Homo sapiens: one gene and its partners. The protein of the gene in region 1 interacts with the protein of each later gene in a pairwise test. Each region holds a gene or a part of one and is shown on either strand. Other genes may lie near its edges.

What was found.
Region 2: the proteins of SWAP70 (region 1) and RAPGEF4 interact in a two-hybrid assay, tested with the Homo sapiens proteins (2 studies listed by BioGRID and IntAct).
Region 3: the proteins of SWAP70 (region 1) and CELSR3 interact in a two-hybrid assay, tested with the Homo sapiens proteins (one study listed by BioGRID and IntAct).

What each region holds. Positions count from the first base shown.
Region 1 is NC_000011.10:9,736,691-9,744,460, forward strand, and holds part of SWAP70 (switch-associated protein 70), read left to right. Parts: intron 1-1,522; coding exon 1,523-1,630; intron 1,631-3,490; coding exon 3,491-3,657; intron 3,658-7,770.
Region 2 is NC_000002.12:173,011,514-173,019,283, forward strand, and holds part of RAPGEF4 (rap guanine nucleotide exchange factor 4), read left to right. Parts: intron 1-2,950; coding exon 2,951-3,101; intron 3,102-4,835; coding exon 4,836-4,924; intron 4,925-5,660; coding exon 5,661-5,691; intron 5,692-5,912; coding exon 5,913-5,991; intron 5,992-7,142; coding exon 7,143-7,289; intron 7,290-7,770.
Region 3 is NC_000003.12:48,652,448-48,660,217, reverse strand, and holds part of CELSR3 (cadherin EGF LAG seven-pass G-type receptor 3 precursor), read left to right. Parts: coding exon 1-1,331; intron 1,332-2,869; coding exon 2,870-3,520; intron 3,521-3,852; coding exon 3,853-4,078; intron 4,079-4,366; coding exon 4,367-4,482; intron 4,483-4,823; coding exon 4,824-4,912; intron 4,913-5,016; coding exon 5,017-5,174; intron 5,175-5,765; coding exon 5,766-5,929; intron 5,930-6,214; coding exon 6,215-6,340; intron 6,341-6,429; coding exon 6,430-6,599; intron 6,600-7,030; coding exon 7,031-7,216; intron 7,217-7,664; coding exon 7,665-7,770. UniProt on the Homo sapiens protein: Receptor that may have an important role in cell/cell signaling during nervous system formation.

The sequences.
Region 1 (7,770 bases):
ATCTCTCATTTAAGCTTTCCACCTCTGTTGGTACCACACCAACAGCTGTTAGAGTTCACTAATTTTGTTCTGTTGTTCTCCATAATGCCCTGGAACCTGAATTGCCTCACAGTCTGAGATCATTTAAATTCAGGCCTACATGTAGTCTTTAAGGTCAGTCTTTGAGACTTGTTCCTACTACATGAGAACTCTTCTTAGCTGTCTCTTTCTCTGGTTCTGTCTGTCAGACGTTTGGCTGGTCTGGAAGAGCAGTGGCTCACACCTGTTAATCACTTTGGGAGGACAGGGTGGGAGGATCACTTGAGGCCAGGAATTTGAGACCAGCCTGGGCAACATAGCGAGACCTCATAGCAGTCAACCAACAAACCAACAACACTTTTAGCTGGTCCGTGTGTTAGTGTGTTGTTCTCATGGAGCTTCTGGCCTCCTCTTAATTCTCAGCCACTCTTGCCTGGAATAAAGTTTCTGCAACATGCAGCTGGGGACAAAGAGAAATTCTGGCAGCCAGCCTGCCCCTCCCAGGAAGGTATCATAGCCCTAGGCTTGAGCTGAGGGGAGGGGAACCCTTGTTTGGGGTTCCATCTGCCAGGAGAAGAGCTTTCTTCTCACTGACACTGTGGGGGTGGGGAGGGAGTGCATCATATGCCACAGACCCTCACGATTCTTACTGAGAGTTAGATTTTCTTAGATAAATGTTCTCCATTTTAGAATGTCCTTAGCATAATTTCTAGAGACTTTTAAAGGTTTTGTTTTTTTAACAATAATTTTCACCAGTTATGGTTGTTTTGTTGGGGAAAGGGTCTGTGGAGCTCCTTATGCCACCCTTCTAGAAATTGGTTCTGGTAAAAGTTATAATGAATAATGTATAAGATGAAAAAACTGTACAGAAAGAGCTCAAGAAATAGCTCTCAAATCTCATGAATGTGGCTGGGCATGGTGGCTTACACCTGTAATCCCAGCACTTCGGGAGGCTGAGGTGGGCGGATCACGAGGTCAAGAGATCGACACTATCCTGGCCAACATGATGAAACCCCGTGTCTACTAAAAATACAAAAATTAGCTGGATGTGGTGGTGTGTGCCTGTAGTCCCGGCTACTCGGGAGGCTGAGGCAGGAGAATCACTTGAACCTGGGAGGTGGAGGTTGCAGTGAGCCGAGATCGTGCCACTGCACTCCAGCCTGGCGACAGAGCAAGACTCAGTCTCAAATAAATAAATAAATAAATAAAAATCTCATGAATGCAATCCCAAGTGAATTTAATTCAATGACTGTACTAAAACTTTCTTTGCAAAATGTTGTTCAGGCTTATCAATAGTCTTTCATTTACCTAATTTATTTTGTATGTTGATTCAGCAGATCGTTAGACTGGAATTCTAATGGAGCTAAAAGTTTTTATTCTATTATCTTTATTGAATGTTAAGAATGTTTGGCTTTTCCTGTACTTAAGTATGACTGTCTCTCTCTCTTTAATGTACTTCTACTCTAACACCTGCTTTTCTGTGGATGGGTTTTTGATTGGCTAGAAACTGGAGGAAGCAGCATCTCGTGCAGCAGAAGAGGAAAAGAAACGCCTTCAGACTCAAGTGGAACTTCAGGCCAGGTTCAGCACAGAGCTGGAAAGAGAGAAGCTTGTGAGTATCACATGGCTGGAGAAAGCAGCTGCAGTAGCTCAGCCTGGGTCGGTGGGAACAGGGAAGGGCTGGAGGCTACAGTGAGGCATGTCATCAGCTTGGCTTTGCTACTGACCTGGAATGGGCTGTAGGGGAAGTTGCATGTTTGTTCATTCATTAATTATCTGTTTATTGAACACCTTCTATGTGCCAGGCAGTGTGCCAAAGATGTAATGGCAAAAGACATAAACCTTGTTTTCAAGACTCCTAAGTGGAAATTTATGGAGCCAGGCATGGTGGCCCACTCCTGTAATCCCAGCACTTTGGGAGGCCAAGGCATGAGAATTGCTTGAGCCCAGGAGTTCAAGACCAGCCTGGGCAATATCTACAAAAAAAAAAAAAAAAAAAAGAATTAGCCAGGCCTGTTGGTACATGCCTGTAGTTCCAGCTACTTAGGAGGCTGAGGTGGGAGGATTGCTTGAGCCCAGGAGTTCAAGGCTACTGTGAGCTGTGATTTTGCCACTGCACTCCAGCCTGGGTGACAGAGCAAGGCCCTGTCTCCAAAAAAGAAAAAAAAAGAAATTTGTGGAATGATGTGATAAATGCTTGGTTAGGGTGACTATATTTCCTGGTTTGCCTGGGAGAGTCCCTGCCATTCTGGTATAATTATTAATAACATTCCTTTTCATTCTCAAAACAGTTCTGATTTGGAAAATAAATAGTTATGGAAAAAGTAAGCATAGGTTCCATGGTATATCTCCTCTGTAATAAGCAAGGATGGCGGGGGTGAGATCCTGAAATTGTGAGAACATCTAGAGTCTGATTTGTTGCTCTTGGCAGCTCCGGTTCATCCTAGAGGCTTCCATCTTCAAGAGACCCAAGATCCAGGTTGTCTTAGGTAGTTAGCTGGTTAGCTGGAACACAGGTCTTCTCACATTGAGTGATACTCTGTCAGAGAGTGCTAAGCCCAGTGCCTAAATAGATGCATGTGACATTTCCTCTAGTCACTTTTTGTTATTTAGAGTTGAAAGAGATGTGTTTGTGGTTCAGAGAAAAGAGGAAGGCAAATGTGATGTAGAGAAACAGCCAGAATGTCTGGTCTTGTTTCCTCTCTGGTCCTTCTTACTGAACATTGGCTTTTTCTTCTTTAAGTTCAGGATTATCACATGCTCTCTCATGACTCTTCTGAAGACAGAGTGAGCTAATGCAAGTGAAAATATTTTATCAACTGCAGAGAAATAGGCTAATGTGTTTGTTATATTTAGGATGTTCTTGTCTTGTAATTTTTAAGGCAGGGATTCAAAACTCTGTAATCCAGAAGGGAAAAACCATTAACGTATACAGATTAACTGAAATGCTTGAGTTCCTCTAGGGCTGGAGGTGCCCCAGGGAGTGGAGACAGCCAGGGAAGTGTGGGAGGAATCCCATGCTGGATGACCTTTCCTTCTTCTTTAGTGTAACACTAAAGAAGACTGGGAAAAGGTTCGTTTGCTCTGACTGGGAAAAGGTTCGTTCCTTTTAGAGAAGACCCTATTGGTAAAAAGATTGTGACTTTAAGACAGAAAGGAATTTAGAGAGAAATTACACAAGGAAACATTTTTTTCTTGACTTGAGTCTTAAAATGTGGAGTGGAAGGGATGGAAAATACAGCAGGGCAGAACATAATTTGGGTTATAATTTGCTCTTCCCAGACTCTTTCACTATTGCGATTGGGTGTGGTACCCTCATCTCCTCCATCTTTAAGTTCAAGGATTGAAGGACAGGGTCCTGCCACCCTGATGGGCTGAGGCTGCAGCTGTGGGCAACCCCTCAGGTGGAGGTGAGGCTTTCCCTGAGAAAGAAGTCAACCTGCATTTAAACAAGACCCTTTTATACCAACAGATCAGACAGCAGATGGAAGAACAGGTTGCTCAAAAGTCCTCTGAACTGGAACAGTATTTACAGCGAGTACGGGAGCTGGAAGACATGTACCTAAAGCTGCAGGAGGCTCTTGAAGATGAGAGACAGGCCCGGCAAGATGAAGAGACAGTGCGGAAGCTTCAGGCCAGGTGCCAGATTTGTTTGCAGACTTTGCCTTTATGTACTTTGCCTGGGCTAATACAGTTTCTTGGAATGACTAACACTCTGGTGGAGAGGGAGAAGTGTCTCTGCTCTGGCTGTGACTGAGCTCGAGGTGCTGTCCAGATTAGAAAGACTGTGGAGACTCGACCGGCTGGAGTGTTTCTTTTCATTCTGAGGCGCTGGGAAACCCTTGCTTCTGGGGCTAAATAAGGGCCTATTTTAGAGCAGTCTGGTAGGTATGTTTGATGAGGTACCCTTAGTCTTATTCGAGAAAATCCACAAACCCAGAATTACCTCTGATAAGAGCTTGGCATCTTCAACACGCTCCAGACCAGAGAGGGCCATTGGTATGCAGGCAGAGGCCTGTTCAGGCCAACGTTGCCGTCAGGTTTTGAGGAATAAGGAAGAAATATGCAGTTTCTATTTGGTCATTCAGGATTGGTAACATTCCTTCAGTAATTACTACTTGAAATCCTAATTTTAAAAGTATTTGAAACCTAGATTTTTTTTCCCCTTAGAACTTTATGATAGTCATGTTCGCAGATGAAAATTCTCAATTTTGGGCCTTCATGGCAGCAGGGAGGACAAAATAAAATGAAGACTCCCAAAGGGAAAAATTGAGCCTATCCTCTGCCAGTTTCTACTTTGCTGCCCCATTTACATTATTTAAGGTGTCTGGGATGGGAGACAACACTAAAAAGTATTCACTACAGTAGCAGCACAGGGTCCAGTCTTTGATCTCTGACCCCCTGTTTTGGGGAGCAGTTATGAGATGAGCTAGGGTAGATTTTCCATGGCTGCCATTTTACATGTGGAGCAGCAAAAGATGTTTCTTTAATCTTTAGATAGGAAGAGAAAGAAGAAGCCATCTTTAGTTGTATATTTTGCCAAAAGTGACTTCAAAAATAAATAAATTGTTTTGGACATTTAGATTTTAAATTTAAATTTTTTTAAGGAAAAATTATTTTCTAAATAGAAAATTAAGCATGTAGCATATTGCCAGGCATATATAGGCCCCACAGGTGCACATTCACTGCACTGTGAGGTTAATCAGGTTCTTGGAACTCCCCTCCAGTGCCACTCGGCAGTGATTTTAGCAGAAGAGTCACTCTACGGGAATGTTTGAGTGCCATGTGACGTCCAGAGTGACGTTCTACATGACACTCAACATTTTTTGAGCCACCTCATAATTTGAGCCGTGTTGAGAGTTAATAGATTGTTTTTGTGCAAAGAATTCGCAGGTGAAATATGCTATATGTATTACTGCAGTTTTGTGGGAAGTTGATTATGACACAGCAGAGACTAGATCACAGAGGGAACCAGATAATTCTAGAAATACTAGTCTTAGTTATTTAGTGTTTATAGAATGAGTGATATTTTGAATAAGGGATAATTTTGGATAATTGAAGCCAGTGGTTTTTTAACCAATGTTATGTATCAGAATCACCTCACAAAGCTTCTGAAAAATACACCACAAAGTGTGGCTCACCCACCACACTTTGGGAGGCCGAGGCTGGAGGATCACTTGAACCCAGGAGTTTATGACCAGCCTGAGCAACATGGTGAAACCTCATCTTTAAAAAAAAAAAAAAAAAAAAGTCTACTTGGGAGGCTGAGGCAGGAGGATCACTTGAGTCCAGGAGGTTGAGGCTGCAGTGAGCTGCATTTGCACCACTGTACTACAGCCTGGGGGACAGAATGAGACCCTGTCTCAAAAAAAACACAAAACAACAACGGCAAAAAACTCCAGCTAATTATTTTGCACACTCTGATTTAAGCAATAGCAAAATGGTTTCAACCTTTTGAATCCAGATGTAACTTCTACATACAGCTCTGATCCAATATGCTGAAAGTACTGCACACAAATTTAACTTTTTCTTAATGTGCAAAGGGCATTTTATGAATATAATTATTTTATTATTCTAAATTTTTTTTTCTCTTAGTTTTTGGAACCTGAAATGGACAAATTTGCCCCCCTGCTCCCTTTTTTTTTCTGAGATGGAGTCTTGCTCTGTTATCAGGCTGGAGTGCAGTGGCGTGATCTCGGCTCACTGCAATCTCCGCCTCCTGGGTTCAAGCGACTCTCCTGCCTCAGCCTCCCGAGTAGCTGGGAGTACAGGCGCGCACCACCACACCTGGCTAATTTTTGTATTTTTAGTAGAGATGGGGTTTTGCCATGTTGGCCAGGATGGACTCCATCTCCTGACCTTGTGATCCGCCTGTCTCGGTCTCCCAAAGTGCTGGGATTACAGGCATGAGCCACCACGCCCGGCCTAGTGGTCATTTTTAAGTGAAATGTGTTCCTCTTTCCTGAAGTCACTGAAGGCTGTGGCTGATTCAGAGGGACTTTCTGTCAGATTGGCAGAGAGGGTTTGTTCTTTGCTCCTCAGGATAGGCCTTTCTGGATAGAAAAATCAAGGGAAGTCATCCTGGAGTTGGGTTGGAAAACTGGCACTAATGAAATGCACATAATCTTACGCCAAGGGCCTGTGTAAAAGGCTGCTCAGTTAACTCTTCTCACTCCTTTTTTTTTTTTTTTAATTTTATTATTATTATACTTTAAGTTTTAGGGTACATGTGCACAATGTGCAGGTTTGTTACATATGTATACATGTGCCATGCTGGTGTGCTACACCCATTAACTCGTCATTTAGCATTAGGTATATCTCCTAATGCTATCCCTCCCCCCTCCCCCCACCCCACAACAGGCCCCGGTGTGTGATGTTCCCCTTCCTGTGTCCAAGTGTTCTCATTGTTCAGTTCCCACCTATGAGTGAGAATATGCGGTGTTTGGTTTTTTGTTCTTGCGATAGTTTACTGAGAATGATGATTTCCAATTTCATCCATGTCCCTACAAAGGACATGAACTCATCCTTTTTTATGGCTGCATAGTATTCCATGGTGTATATGTGCCACATTTTCTTCATCCAGTCTATCATTGTTGGACATTTGGGTTGATTCCAAGTCTTTGCTATTGTGAATAATGCCGCAATAAACATACTTGTGCATGTGTCTTTATAGCAGCATGATTTATAATCCTTTGGGTATATACCCAGTAATGGGATGGCTGGGTCAAATGGTATTTCTAATTCTAGATCCCTGAGGAATCGCCACACTGACTTCCACAAAGGTTGAACTAGTTTACAGTCCCACCAACAGTGTAAAAGTGTTCCTATTTCTCCACATCCTCTCTAGCACCTGTTGTTTCCTGACTTTTTAATGATTGCCATTCTAACTGGTGTGAGATGGTATCTCATTGTGGTTTTGATTTGCATTTCTCTGATGGCCAGTGATGGTGAGCATTTTTTCATGTGTTTTTTGGCTGCATAAATGTCTTCTTTTGAGAAGTGTCTGTTCATGTCCTTCGCCCACTTTTTGATGGGGTTGTTTCTTTTTTTCTTGTAAATTTGTTTGCTCACTCCTTTCTTAAAGCAACAGCCGATCATTCGTGGAATATTTGGAATCTCATTATTCTTTTAATGGATAGTTCTTTCTCTGTCAGTCTCTTAAAAAGACAGTGTCTTAAAAAAAAAGAGAAACTTTTTATAGTAAATTGTTTAAATGAAAGACAAGAACTTTAGCTTGAAACACGTAGATCTTGTAATTTTTTTTTTTTTTTTGAGACGGAGTCTCGCTCTGTCACCCAGACTGGAGTGTAGTGGCGTGATCTCGGCTCACTGCAAGCTCTGCCTCCCAGGTTCAAGCCATTCTCCTGCCTCAGCCTCCTGAGCAGCTGGGACTACAGGCGCCTGCCACCACGCCCAGCTAATTTTTTGTATTTTTAGTAGAGACGGGGTTTAACCGTGTTAGCCGGGATGGTCTTGATCTCCTGACCTCGTGATCCACCCGCCTCGGCCTCCCAAAGTGCTGGGATTACAGGCTTGAGCCACTGCACCTGGCCAGATCTTGTAATTTTAAAAATTACGATTGAAGTTTTTTATTAACTTTTAATTTTTGTGGGTACACAGTAGGTGTTTATATTTGTGAGGTACATGAGATATTTTGATACAGGCATACAATGTGTAATAATCACATCAGGGTAAATGGGGTATCCATCACCTCAAGCATTTATCCTTAGTCTTACAAACAGTCCACTATAC
Region 2 (7,770 bases), on another chromosome or scaffold:
ACATGTTATCATAACAAGTAGGAAAGAATCTTTCCTCTCTCTCTCTCTCCCCCCACTCCTCCTTTCTCTCTTACACATGTGAATACCTCCTTTCCAACATGTTGTCCAATGTAATATTTCAGATGAATAGGACTGTGCCCATTGTATCACCAGAACCTAGCATGGTGCTTTACTCAAAGTAGTCGGTTAATTAATAATTAGTGAATCAATTGGATCAATTTGAATAGTTTCTTTGCCTAAGTACTTGTAAAGCATTTTGATGTATTTTCTCTGAAAAGCATATTAATTCATTTGAAAATATATTTATTTCTTAAAAACCACATTAGCAGACTCCGTCTCAAAAAAAAAAAAACCACATTAGCACCTTAATTGTCCTATCTTGGGGTTATTTTTCTAAATTGAGGCTAAGTGTTCACCACTCTATTACTACCAGCTCAGTAAAAGCTTCCCTTTCCTCTCTATGCTGTTTCCATCTTTGAGTGATTCAAAATATGCTCATGTTGCATGTGTAGTGAAATATTTTTAAGATTGTAGTTTATAGAGTAACTTAGGGCACAGTGTGACATTCTTTTAAATTGGCATGATCTGAGAGAGAATTAAATTTGCTCATTTTTCACAGTACAAGGCCATCAGAAAGGTTGTCTTTCACAGGCACTATCACTTAGACTTAGAAGAGGGACTAGAGGGAAGAAGCCTAGCCTCAGGTACCCGGTGAGGAACACGCATGGTCCATAGTGGCATCAGGATATTTGGGACAGCAGTCTAGGGAGCGAGCCCAGCCTAATGGGAGCTTTGACACATACCGTACTCAGAATTCAGAATCTCCACTGACTCTTACATTTATAGGGGTTGGCATTCCTCAGCCCACACCCCTACTCCCCACCTTGGCCATTCTTACTTTCTCCATTTGGCTCCTATGCCATGGAAATGAAAAAGATAGCACCTGCCAAAGCCTGATGTCATCCAAGTTTCTGCACAAACACAAGATACCATAAAACTAAACCAAAGAAAGCACAGTGGCAACGTAGCATTGTATTTTCATTATGTTAGTTTGTGGCACCTATCTGATTCTCCTTCGGTTCACCTTGCCTTAGCGTTATTAAATGCGGTAGCTGAAAGAGAATTTGGAAATGATTTCTTCTCACCTCCTCATTTCATGGAGAGTAAATGGAAGTCTACAGTGGCTAAGTGACTTACACAATATCACATAGCTAAATGGTGGCAGCTAGAGGACTTGAACCCAGATCCTCCCACTCTCGGGTGAACCAGTACATATTTTTCAATCAGTCAAGACTTTCCTATTTGGTACCTACCATGCATCTGACTATGCTCCTACGTGCCATTAAAAAATGGTCATAAAATATAATGTCCAGCATTGCAACTCTTTGGAAAGAAAAACTCAGTTATAAATGCATGCAAGCAAGAGACCAAAGAGTTAATCAGAAAAGAAATAATTTTCACATAAAGCGATCTTTCTTCCTTTCTTCATTGTGAGCTGAGAGAGGATTGTAGCAATACAGGTTGAGCAATTTTCTTTTTTATGAATCTCGTGCTCAATTTATGAAAGCCATTTTGCAACCCATTTACATGCAGTAAACCTTTGCCTTAAAGTTCTGTCATTTACCTTGATCATGATTATTTATAGTCCTTTTAGACAAGGCTCTTTACTGGTTTAGCTCTCAAGCACAGCACTGTCACAAGCCAGTTTTCTACGTCTTTCAAGGCAGGGTAGGAAGCTAAGACAGGGCCAGTCTTGTAGCTCGCTGTGAGGAATGGGGGCTTTGGGTAATGGGAAGAACACTAGTTGGCATCAGGAGTCTTGCATTCGCAACCTCTGCACTCTCACTCTGTAATCCTGGCCATTTATGCTTCTTTAGTTTCAGTTTGTTCACTTATAGAAATGGAGCGACACTTTCATCACAAGGCTATAAAGTGGAGTTGAAGTGAAGTACTTTGTGTGCAAGTTATATTGTAAATAGTGAAGAGTAAGTTGTTTTATGAACTAATTATCTATAATATGAACTATAAATCATTGAAAAAGGAATGGTGTGTCTAACCTAAAATATTTCTTGATTACCTGTGATGTTGTGCCTCCTGTAGAGCATACAAGAATGGACCAGGGACCTTTACTCTTGGCACATAGGAGACTCTCAATCAGTACTTGTTGCATTAATGAATAAATACAGTTTCTGGGTGAAAGTCAGTATCCTAGGCGTAGTGTAGAATACAGGACAAATGACCATCATCCCAAGCCTCAAGGTGCTTACAATTAAGATGGTAGCCATAAATGTGCAAAGAGCCAGTAAGGTAAGTCATGGTTCTACACAAGAGAAGAAGATATGGTGTAAAAATGTGTCTGAGGCCCTCACCAGAGAATTGGTACAGCAGGAGCCTTTCCTCTTCCTACCTCTGGGTGAGTTTATCTACCTCCAGCCTCTCTTGCCCACCCATGCACTCTTTGTATCAGCCATGGTCCCAGCAGGACTAGATGCCCTGCTGGGCATTCAGTTTTACTGAAATGCATGTAACAAAGGGGATTACAGAGATTCGGGCAGAATTTTGGAAACCAACAACGGGTGGAAATGCACCCAGAGAGAAGCAATGGCAAGAAACATTACCACCCAGAGTAGCAAAGGGCAAGGCAGATCCTGGCAGAGAATGACAGCTAGAGCTAGACACAAGAATCCTTGTCCACACCAAGTCCAGGAGGAGTCTGTGAAAGTCTAATCCCTTGGGCAACTATCAGGCCAGAGTCAGCAGGAGTAAACAAGGAATTGCATGCATTCGGCACAGACACTTTCTGTGGGGTTTTTCATGAGGGCCTAGGGGAGGAATTCTATCCATCTAAAAGCCTGGCTTTCTGAAGCTGGGATCTGTCACTCTTTACCTTTGAAAGTAGCATGTGAAATGAGTGTGAAATGGCTCAATTTCTTCCTTGACTCCTCGGCACCTACCACGCACAGCCTTCACAAGGTACAGAACAGGAGAAAATGGATTATGCCCTCAACAATAAGAGGCGAGTCATCCGCCTGGTTCTACAGTGGGCTGCCATGTATGGAGACCTCCTGCAAGAGGATGACGTGTCTATGGCCTTCCTGGAGGTAGGCAGGGGTCATCTCTTCCAAGAATATACTGTTGTCCTGCAATACAGGGACCTACTTATAGGCTCAGCAGCTTCCCTGGAGAGACCGTAATTGCAAATGCTAGACTTTGTGAACACATTCATTCATCAGAAAGGAACTACAGAAAAAGTAAGGAAAAAATTTACCCATTATTCTGCCATTCTGACTCCCTAATGGGTAGCATTTTCATGTATTTTCATCTAGTCTCTTTTTCTTTGTATGTTTTATCTTGTAGTCACGTAGCACCCATCATTCTGCAGGCTGCTTTTTCCATTTATTTGATATAAGGATTTTTCTGTCAGTACAGTCCTTATAATAAAAATTTATTTACATCTCCTGAAGTAATCAAAAAAATATCTAATGACCATTGAGTAGCCATGTCACAGATATATTTATGTGTTCCCTTATTGTTGAGTGTTCACATCATTTCCAGTTTTCACCTTCCTAGAATAGTAGTACGGTAAAAAGTCTTGTGCAAGTGATTCTGTCCTTGATTACCTTCCTAGAAATGGGATTACTAGATCAAATGGTAGATATTTTTGAGTGGAGTGGAGCAGATCATTTATTTAGGAATTGCTAGAACTGGAAATGGTAGGCTGTGAAAGTGGTTCATAAACACTGTTGAAAGCTGCACTTCCCCGTTCCTTCCCGTAGCTCTAGCCCCAAATTACAGCACTGATTCTGACATTTAAGCTCAATTAGTCGCTCTCCCCTCCAAAATTTGGATGAAGACCTGACTTCTGTTCAGGCAAAAGGCAATGTTACTTCCGTTTCAAACTTTTTCAGTCTGTGTTCTAAAATTATAAATTATCCAAAAGAAACATACACCGTCTCTCCTTTCTATTCATATCATTTCACAGCCAGAGGTGCGAGGCAGTGAGGAAAGATGGACCGAGAGCATCCCTCCAAGCTGAGGAATGAAGTATTTTGAAAATGCGAGGAATGGCGGTAGCTTGGGGTCATACATTGACTCATGGCCTCTACCCGCTGAGTACAGGACCATTTTGTAGATGAACTAAAGTGGTGGTGTAGCTGGCACTGCCATGGTTCTCACCTTCTGCTGCAGAGCAGGCACACCTACAGCTGCAGGGTCAGGACAGTTCCCAGAAGGGCATCAGAGAGTCCTGAGTTGGTGGCACAAACTCATCATAAATTCGCTACAGTGCTGAAGACCATGCTGCATCTTACCACCAACCATGACCCAGAATGAGTGACACCTAGTCAATAAACAATACATACCAAAATAATGTGAAAACGAACATTAAAATTCCCCTGAGAAAAATGAACTAAAAAAAGCACTCTTTTGTGGACTCCAAAATGACCCATTTCAAAACATTGGCTTTCATATAAATATCATATAAACAGTTCACCTGCAATTTACTTTGAATTGAATTTTTATTGTTGTAAAATAGATATCTAATATAAATTTTCCCATTGTAACCATTTTTAGGTGTATAGTTCAGTGGCATTCATTTCATTTCTGATATCCGTGCAGTCATTGATTGCCACTATTTCCAAAATTTTTTCTCATGGCCAATTTTGAACTTAGACATAGTGTAACATTTTCTTCTTTGTTCTTCCTCCAGTCCATGAAGCCATGGTCTGGAGATGCTGGTGAAGCAGATGACATAGGGACACATCTTTATTGCTCTTGACAGAATCATGTGCCTTTTGCAGTTCTTGTTAAAAGCCTGTGACTTTTGCCAATTACAGGAGTTTTATGTATCTGTATCAGATGATGCCCGGATGATTGCTGCCCTCAAGGAGCAACTGCCAGAGTTGGAGAAGATTGTCAAGCAAATGTAAGGAAGGGCTTGACTGTGGGGGTGTGCTTTCATCAAGTAAATCTCAAAAAGTCCTTTGCCCACAAGAAAGGTTAAAGCTGGTCTTTCCATAGCCATGCCCCGCTTGATTTGATTTAAGCAGACTGGGCTGAGGGCATAGGTGGTGCAGTAAGGCCAGAGGAACAGAAGGACTGAGATTCTGTTCATTCTGTGCTAGAGGGCTGCCAAAAGATAGCCTGGGAAAGAAAAGATCCTCCTGGGTGGAGTCCAACTCAATAAACCTGGGTCCCTTAGGTTCAAGGCAGTGAATCTGGCAATAAAATGGCCAGCGGCATTTAAAGAAAGTTTGAGGGCAACTACTTATATGGAAAATTCACTAACTGCTGCCAAAGCTGTTGGTGGTGAATATTTGTGTCCTCTCAATGAACCAGAAGGTTTTCACATGCTATTACTTGAACTATAGATTAAATGCAGTATCAGAGAGTGAGTGTGCTGCTAGATAGACTTTGAAAGCTAGAAATCCTGGCTTTGAACATCGGTTCTGCCAGGAATCTGCCTGTGACAAGAGCTGATATCTTTGCTGTCTACCCTTCTGCTTTGATCTATTACTATTAAAATGAGGAAGCTCATATTGTCTCCTGAAAGGATTCTGTGATTGTGATTTCATTTTCTAACATAAGATTAGTTATATACAAATAAGGCAATTTAATAGTAGCAATGGTATTAAATAATGTGCTTTCTCTACTTCTCGTAGCTCAGAAGATGCAAAGGCACCACAAAAGAAGGTAGGTGGCATGAACTTGCATTCTCTGTCTGTGTCCTGTAGAATTACAATTCCCCAGAAATATTATATTGCAGTATACATAAAAGTGATTTCTTTTTTGTAGACGTGAAATATATTGTCTTCATTTCTTGACTCTGCTTGCTTCTCAGATGTGTCTTCTCTGAGATGCTAGCATGCATTGGTCACTGTCCCTTATGGCACTTGCTGTGGTTGTTTTTACAGCACAAGGTTCTTTTGCAACAGTTCAATACGGGCGATGAGAGAGCCCAGAAGCGCCAGCCTATCCGCGGCTCTGATGAAGGTGAGAACCCTCTTCCAACTAACTCGTAGTTGTATAGATTATTTAGTCAGGATAATGGTAAGCATCACCTTGGACCCACAGAATAGCTTCTTTTGAAGATGCCCTGTTGCCCTCCAGATGGTTTGCTTGGAGGTGCCCTTTGGTGGCCCGATTATTTATGTCCTTAAACTCTTGTGCCTGAAGCCGAGATGCCTGTCTACCTTTCCCTGATTTGGCCTCTCCCTGCTTAACCCCTTTCCTTGGAGGAAATGAAGATGATCTCAGGGCCTGGTTGTCAGGATTGCCCACCCCTGGGAAAAGCTGGTGGGAAGGTAGCTGGCGCCTAGTGGGTGCCAAGGAGACAATGGATCACCAGCATCCTGCCCAGGGACAATGCTCTGGCCCTGAGCCCAGCCCTGAGCAGGGAGGCTTTACATCAGGAAGATCAAGATGCTGGCTTTTGTTTGGTTATTTAAGATTCTCCAAAGAATCACAACCAAAAATAGTCACAATAATAATGATAAAAATTTCATTTAAAGCTATAAATAAATCTTGTCATTTAGGACTGCCTCTAAACCCAGGAATTATAATATAATAATGGGAATTGCTCCCAGGATTTTTGTGTTCAGAGTTGAGCCTCTGGGTGCCATATCCAGATCTGCTGATCTAAGTCTGCTGAGCTAAATAGCATCCGAGCTTACATGGCCTGGCCCCAAAGCACACAAGCCACTGAAGCAAGTGAGCAGGAGTGTCAGCACGTGCTCATGGCCCAGGCGGAAGCCCTCCTGTGTGCAGAGAGGTGAATGGTGTCTCCCCACTGCCACACAGGGTAGCAGTGATCTGTGAATTGCCTACAGTATAGCACTTCAGACCCTGAACATCAGCCTGAAGATACTCTCAATTTTTTCCCATGACCTCTTTGTGGGGTTTTCACCAATATCTCTTGTTCTTTTAATTGGACTTGGCAACCATATGTGCACCTATTCTTAGACCAATGCTAAGGTAAGCAGTTTAGAAGGGGCAGGAATAGGGGTAAATGAGTATGAATAAATACAGTAACAAAAATGGCAAAATGATGCAAATTGGAGAGGATGCCTAAACATTTTTCATAACTATAGTTTTATTGAAAACTCTTAAGAGTGATTTACTACCTTGTTACTGCCTTTGGATAGTTCTGTTTAAGGTCTATTGCATGGACCACACCTACACAACCATTCGGGTGCCAGTGGCCACTTCGGTGAAGGAAGTCATCAGTGCAGTTGCCGACAAGCTGGGCTCCGGGGAGGGCCTGATCATAGTCAAGATGAGTTCCGGAGGAGGTAACAGTCTTAATTCATATTTTAGGCTCTGCAAAATGGGACATTCCATCCAAGCAGAAACTATGTAAGGAGTTAGCGTGGTCATGTGAGGCTCACCCAGAGGATGAACTGGTGCTTATGTATGCTTCCACTAATAACAGAAACAGTATGGGTAGAGGTGGGTTGGGTTTCTAATGTCCCCTATCTGGTAGGTACCCACTCTAAATCAGAAAGGTGACTGGAACTGAGGACTGTCGTGTAGATGTTGGCCTGGAGTTCTTTCAATTTAAACTCTATTCAAAAAAGTTTTAGGCCTTGGAGCCCTGAAAAATATGGGCCCCAAGAGGAAATCTAGCTGGACAAGCTCAAGGCCATGGGTTTCTACAAGTCCAAAGTTGGAAGTGGTCAGAAGCTAGTTCTTTGAAGCTGATGATGGTTTTTCTCCTTACTCAGTAGAGAGGCTAGGAGCCTGGCTCAAATGAAATGAGGAATATTTTTCCTC
Region 3 (7,770 bases), on another chromosome or scaffold:
CCAGGGGGGTGTGGGTCTGGTGACTCTGGCTCTGCCACTGGACTACAAGCAGGAACGCTACTTCAAGCTGGTACTAACTGCATCTGACCGTGCCCTTCATGATCACTGCTATGTGCACATCAACATCACAGATGCCAACACTCATCGGCCGGTCTTTCAAAGTGCCCACTACTCAGTGAGTGTGAATGAAGATCGGCCAATGGGTAGCACCATAGTGGTCATCAGTGCCTCTGATGATGACGTGGGTGAGAATGCTCGTATCACCTATCTCCTGGAGGACAACCTGCCCCAGTTCCGCATTGATGCAGACTCAGGAGCCATTACATTACAGGCCCCATTAGACTATGAGGACCAGGTGACCTACACCCTGGCTATCACAGCTCGGGACAATGGCATCCCACAGAAGGCAGACACTACTTATGTGGAGGTGATGGTCAATGACGTGAATGACAATGCTCCACAATTTGTGGCCTCCCACTATACAGGGCTGGTCTCTGAGGATGCCCCACCTTTCACCAGTGTCCTGCAGATCTCAGCCACTGACCGGGATGCTCATGCCAATGGCCGGGTCCAGTACACTTTCCAGAATGGTGAAGATGGGGATGGAGATTTTACCATTGAGCCCACCTCTGGAATTGTCCGTACAGTAAGGCGGCTAGACCGGGAGGCAGTATCAGTGTATGAGTTGACTGCCTACGCAGTGGACAGAGGTGTGCCCCCACTCCGGACTCCAGTCAGTATCCAGGTGATGGTGCAGGATGTGAACGACAATGCACCTGTCTTCCCAGCTGAGGAGTTTGAGGTGCGGGTGAAAGAGAATAGCATTGTGGGCTCAGTGGTGGCCCAGATCACTGCAGTGGACCCTGACGAAGGCCCCAATGCCCATATAATGTACCAGATCGTGGAGGGGAACATCCCTGAGCTGTTCCAAATGGACATCTTCTCTGGAGAACTGACGGCACTCATTGACCTAGACTATGAGGCTCGCCAAGAATATGTGATTGTGGTGCAGGCCACATCTGCTCCTTTGGTCAGCCGGGCCACTGTGCACGTCCGCCTGGTTGACCAGAATGACAACAGCCCTGTGCTCAACAACTTCCAGATCCTCTTCAACAACTATGTATCCAACCGTTCAGACACCTTCCCGTCGGGCATTATTGGGCGCATCCCAGCTTATGACCCCGATGTCTCCGACCACCTCTTCTACTCCTTTGAGCGTGGCAATGAGCTGCAGCTGCTGGTAGTCAACCAGACCAGTGGGGAGCTGCGACTCAGCCGAAAGCTAGACAATAACCGCCCACTGGTGGCCTCCATGTTGGTGACTGTCACAGGTGAGGGGCAGGGGGCAGGCAAGTGACCCAGTGACACCAACCTGTTGGGCCTCAGGGACTCCACAGGGCACCTCAAACCAAAGAGGGATTTCTAAGCCTTCCAAGAACCCCTTAAGGGTAGGGTTCCTGCACCCTACAAGATCTGCCACAGACCTCACAAGGACTCTGCTTAGGTTCCTGGATAATCTCCACAGAATCCCAGTGATTCCAAGGCATCTAGCAGACCCCATAAAGCCTGTAAAGAACTGTCTGCTACCTAGGGATATCTCCCCTCCTGATAAAAGGTCAGAGGTCCTGGGGTAATCCTCTGGAGGTCCTAGGCAAAGCCAGTATGGGCCAGTCAGTCCACACTATGCCCATGTTCAGACGAAGGGTTACTTTGGGTCCAGTCTGACGCTTACCCTATCTGTGCAGGAAATGACCAATACTTGAGTGGTCAGGAACAGCAGCTTACTATGGAAGCTTCAGGTGGACAGTGGCTTCGTAGGGCCTGAGACCCTGACCTTTGGGAAAATGTCCAGAGGTCCACTTGCCTCTTTCCTGCCCCATCTGCTCCAGTCTTTCAGAAACCCCTCCATAATAGGAGAGTGCAGGTGGGAGAGGCTCTTGAAGTTCTGCCTACTGGAGGCTGCAGAGGTTGGGAAATAGGCTTCACTGGTGCTCATTCCTCAGTTCTGGAGCAGGGACTCCTGGCACTGCCTGAGAAGGCACAACCTTCATTTATCCCTCAACTCACTCAACAGTCTATCCTTATTGACCACCCAGTATGTGCTAGGGTGTGGGGACAAGACGAACAAGGCAGCTAAGCACCTCACCTTCATCTCTGGGGTGGTCACTGTGAAACCACAGGACCCAGGTCTGGAGTGGCGAGCAGGCTGCTAACTCAAGAATGCTGGTGTGTGTGTGTGTGTGTGTATGTCAGGGTTCAAGACCCCCCTGGAGCTTGATAACCCAGGATTCTGGAGGATGGCATTGAGTCTTCACTGGGCCAGGGCCCCTTCTAGTGTCATGGAAGAGCAATTTGCTGACCAAAAATAGGAGATAGGTGATCCCTGATCTGGAACCCTTCTTTTCTGGAGGGGGATGTTTTGCTGGTTCTGCTATGCTGGAGGAGGGGAGAAGGGAAAGGTGGCTGGGAATGAGTGGCCAGTGGCCCTAGCTCCTCTCTGTGTCCTGAGTTGGGGTGGCCTGCTGACCATGATAACTTGGGGAAGTGTGGGTTACTGAGTACTTAGGGTACTTGAGTGCTGTTGCGGGAGTGACTTGCTAACCCATGGGCACTGTGTGGGGTTGCTTGATCCTTGGCCCAGACCCCTCCGTGTATTGGGGATTGGGGGAGGAAGCAGCAGCTTTTTGACACCTTGATGCTGGGGGAGCTGGTGGTCACTAGCCCCAGACTCCCTTGTGTCCTGGTGGGGTCAGCCTGCTGACTTAGAGGTTCTGGGGGCCTAGGCTATCGCTGGCCCCAGCCCTCTTGTGTCCCAGGGAGGGGTGGCCACTGTCCCCAGGATGACCACTGCCCCTGCCCCCGCCTGCAGATGGCCTGCACAGCGTGACGGCGCAGTGTGTGCTGCGCGTGGTCATCATCACGGAGGAGTTGCTGGCCAACAGCCTGACCGTGCGCCTTGAGAACATGTGGCAGGAGCGCTTCCTGTCACCGCTGCTGGGCCGCTTCCTCGAGGGCGTGGCTGCGGTGCTCGCTACGCCCGCTGAGGACGTCTTCATCTTCAACATCCAGAACGACACAGACGTAGGGGGCACCGTGCTCAATGTGAGTTTCTCGGCGCTAGCTCCACGTGGGGCCGGGGCGGGCGCTGCAGGGCCCTGGTTCAGCTCCGAGGAGCTGCAGGAGCAGTTGTACGTGCGCCGGGCGGCGCTGGCGGCTCGCTCCCTGCTCGACGTACTGCCCTTCGACGACAACGTGTGCCTGCGAGAGCCCTGTGAGAACTACATGAAATGCGTGTCCGTGCTCCGCTTTGACTCGTCCGCGCCCTTCCTGGCCTCGGCCTCCACGCTGTTCCGACCCATCCAGCCCATCGCTGGCCTGCGCTGCCGCTGCCCGCCCGGATTCACGGGAGACTTTTGCGAGACCGAGCTCGACCTCTGCTACTCCAACCCATGTCGCAACGGCGGAGCCTGCGCGCGGCGCGAGGGAGGCTACACGTGCGTCTGCCGCCCGCGCTTCACCGGTGAGCAGGGCGCCGGGCCAGAGCTGGGGGAAGCACGGGCCAAGGCTGGGGGCGGGACCACAATGCGAGTGAGTACTGGGAGTCACTTCTGAGGCCACGGCCTGGTATGGACGCGCTTAGGCCAGAAGCCGTAGAGCGTGGCCGGAAGGGGCCGCCGCCGAGGCAGCGATGAGACTGGGGAGGGGGCGGGGCCAGACGGAAGGGGCGTGTCCACCGAAGAGGGCGACCTTTCGGGGGTCTTGGCACCCGGCCTCTGGGCGCGCGGTCTTTGAAGGGGCCGGAGCAGGGGCGGGCGTGGGCGTGACCGCCTCTGACCGCGGCTTGGCCCCCAGGAGAGGACTGCGAGCTGGACACCGAGGCCGGCCGCTGCGTGCCGGGCGTCTGCCGCAACGGGGGCACCTGCACCGACGCGCCCAACGGCGGCTTTCGCTGCCAGTGCCCGGCAGGCGGCGCCTTCGAGGGCCCGCGCTGCGAGGTGGCTGCGCGCTCCTTCCCGCCCAGTTCGTTCGTCATGTTTCGCGGCCTGCGGCAGCGATTCCACCTTACGCTGTCCCTCTCGTAGGTGCCCGCCCCGTGTCTGAGCGCCTCCCCGCCGCCCCCACCTACCCGCCCTGACTCAGATTCCTGACTGCCCCGTCCTGGCATCCCCATGAGACACCGCCCCTCCCCTGACGCCCCGCCCGGGGTCTCCTGACCTCGCTGCACCCGCGTCCCCCCGGTCGGTCCCGCCGTCCCTCGTCGCTTCCTCTCTCGCCCCAGCCCCTTCTCCTCGCAGGGATGGTGGGTGTGAAGTGGTACCCTGCTCCTGACGCTCCCACCCCCGCAACCCCCTCCCACCCCGCCCAGGTTCGCGACAGTGCAGCAGAGCGGGCTGCTCTTCTACAACGGGCGCCTGAACGAGAAGCACGACTTCCTGGCCCTGGAACTCGTGGCTGGCCAAGTGCGGCTCACATATTCCACGGGTGGGTGCCCCGGATGTGACGGCGAAAGGGTGCGTGTGTGCTGGAGGACGCAGGGCCCAAGTCCCCTCAGGTTTGCTTCACTGTGCACCTGAGCACACACTCCACGCCATGCAAGCCCTGAAGACCTAGCTCCTTGGCCATTCCCTGTGGGAAGGTCCCTCCCTCCAAGAAGTCTGTTTCTCCTGTCTGTTCAAAGGCACTCTGAGCCAGCCATTGTGGTCACCAGTGGGGGGACTGATCTGATGCATCCAGGGTGGCCCTGGGAATGGTTGTGCTTATATGACGGGTGGGATGGGGCGACTCCGCTGCTCCTGATGATTCCACATGCATCTCCCCTCCAGGTGAATCCAACACCGTGGTCAGCCCCACAGTTCCAGGGGGCTTGAGTGACGGGCAATGGCATACAGTGCATCTGAGATACTACAACAAGGTGGGGGCCATCCCTGGCATCGGGTATGAGGGGAGTTGGGATGCTGACTTCTGCTCCTCAGGGGTTACTGGGGGCACTGTTGACTGGTGTGCCTGCGTCTTCAGCCCCGGACAGATGCCCTAGGGGGTGCACAGGGCCCCTCCAAGGACAAGGTGGCTGTGCTAAGCGTGGATGATTGTGATGTGGCCGTGGCTCTGCAGTTTGGTGCTGAGATTGGCAACTACTCATGCGCGGCTGCTGGTGTGCAAACAAGCTCCAAGAAGTGAGGCCCCTGCCCCCTAGTCCCCTTGTCCCCTGCCTACCAAAGCCCACTCCAACCCTTCACATCCCATTCCTCATCCCATCCTGCCAAACTCTCCCATCTTTCCCCCAAACCACCAAGATTCCCCTCTCCTCTCAAAGACCCTGAAAGCCTACTCACCCTAGCCCCCAATCCTGTATTCCACCCCATACTCCCTCCTCCCACACACAGTCCCCAGGCAGTCCTCCAAAGCCTCCACCTCCCCACCCCAGTCTCACTAATGTCCCACATCCCCTCCGAGTCCCTTCATCTCATGTCCAGTCCCCCAGAGTCTTCACGTCTCCATCCCCTCCCCAGCCAGCCAGATGCCTCATTCTTTCATCATAGCTCTCAACCCCCATTCACCTACCTTTCCCCAGACCATCGGCCCATCACGGGTGCCCCTTTGCACCCCAACTGAAGTAAGATCCTAACTCCTTCCACAGCTCGGCCTTATTTTCCTCCCTCAATCACCCTACCCTCTGGGTCCTACCCCCCTGCTTCCTGTGGCCCCCCAGGAGCAACTCTACTCTGGCCCCAGTCCCACCAATGACCCAGACCCCTGATCCCCAGGTCCCTGGACCTGACGGGCCCTCTTCTTCTGGGAGGTGTCCCCAACCTCCCCGAGAACTTCCCCGTATCCCATAAGGACTTCATCGGCTGTATGCGGGACCTGCACATTGATGGCCGCCGAGTGGACATGGCGGCTTTTGTCGCAAATAATGGCACCATGGCAGGTAGGCCTGAAGCTTCCACCAGCCTAGCCCATGGCCCTGTCCCCATCATAGGGAGGAAGTGGAGGACTCCATACCTGACTTCAAGCCAGTCTCCTTTGGTGGCAAGCACCATGCTACAGCCCAGATTTTAGGGCCTGACTCTTACCAACCCCACTCATCGAAAGAAAATGGGAAATGGGGCTGAGATCTTGGTCTCTTTCAGCCCCTCTGGACACTAAAGTCCTGTCCAGCACTTGTGCCCCCCAACCCTTGTTCTCATGTCCGCCATGTGCTTTCCTCTCCCAGGCTGCCAAGCCAAGCTACACTTTTGTGACTCAGGCCCCTGCAAGAACAGTGGCTTCTGCTCGGAGCGCTGGGGCAGCTTCAGCTGCGACTGCCCTGTGGGCTTCGGCGGCAAAGACTGTCAGCTTAGTAAGTGGGCAGCATGGGGCAGAGGGGCCTGCAGGGTCAGATCTGTTCCTGGGGCAGGGGCTGTAACCCTGTTTCTCTTATCCACTCAGCTATGGCCCATCCCCACCATTTCCGTGGCAACGGCACACTGAGCTGGAACTTTGGAAGTGACATGGCTGTGTCTGTGCCATGGTACCTGGGGCTGGCATTTCGGACACGGGCAACGCAGGGGGTCCTGATGCAAGTGCAGGCTGGGCCACACAGCACGCTCCTTTGCCAGGTGTGTCCACCCTGCTCACCCCTATACCCTCAGTTCTCAGTCTCTTAGGCCGCCACTGACATTCTTGTGGGTTCAGGTTGGTCACACAGCATACTTTTCTGCCAGGTGTCCCAACCACACTTGACCCTGCTCTGGACCCTAGCCCTTGATTCTCTTTCCATCATTATATCCTCTGCAGGTGCAGGGCTCCAGCATAGCTCTCTCTTATGCAAGCTGCACCAACCCACCCACAACACCTGGTCCTATCCTCTGCCCCCTGACCCCATATCAGCAACATGATGTCCCCTGGCACAGTGCCCTTTGTGCCAGGTATAACCTTGACCCCACTGTTCTGACCTCTGATATTCCTGACCTCTGAGCCCTCTGATCTCACCTCCAAGTCCCAGCCCACATGGGGCTCTAACCCCAGGGCTATGCATCTCTGCCCACAGCTAGATCGGGGGTTACTGTCTGTGACAGTGACCAGGGGCTCGGGCCGTGCTTCCCATCTCCTTCTGGACCAGGTGACTGTCAGTGATGGCCGGTGGCACGATCTGCGGCTGGAGTTGCAGGAGGAACCAGGTGGCCGGCGGGGCCACCATGTCCTTATGGTCTCACTGGACTTTAGCCTCTTCCAGGTCTGGCCTCTGACCCCGGGGTAGTCTGTTCTCAGCCTTCCAACCAGATCCGCCTTATTTGACCCCACCTCTAGTCCAGCTCCTCTCAGTTCCCTCCACTGCACTGAGTCTGATGTTCTACCCCTAGTTCCCCACCATATATCCTTGCACTGAGCCCACCCACCAGCCAAGTTGGTCCACTCTCAAGCCCTCTTTGTGCCAGATTTGGGGCCTGGTCTTGGGGAACCTCTGTAGCCAGCACTTTGCCTGATTCCTAGAAGCCCCTTCTAGTCTCTGCCCCAGTCTCTACCCACCCCCGGTCAAAATCAAGCAATATTAAGGTCTACTGTGGGTCCAGGAGGGAGGGGGCAGCCTAGAAGGGCTAGAAGAAGGCCAAGACTGACTCTGGGCTATGACAGGGGTTCATCAGGCCCCTCTCCCTCAGTGCTGACTGCCCCACTTCCTCCAGGACACCATGGCGGTGGGGAGTGAGCTGCAGGGCCTGAAGGTAAAGCAGCTCCACGTGGGAGGCCTGCCCCCCGGCAGTGCAGAGGAGGCTCCTCAGGGTCTGGTTG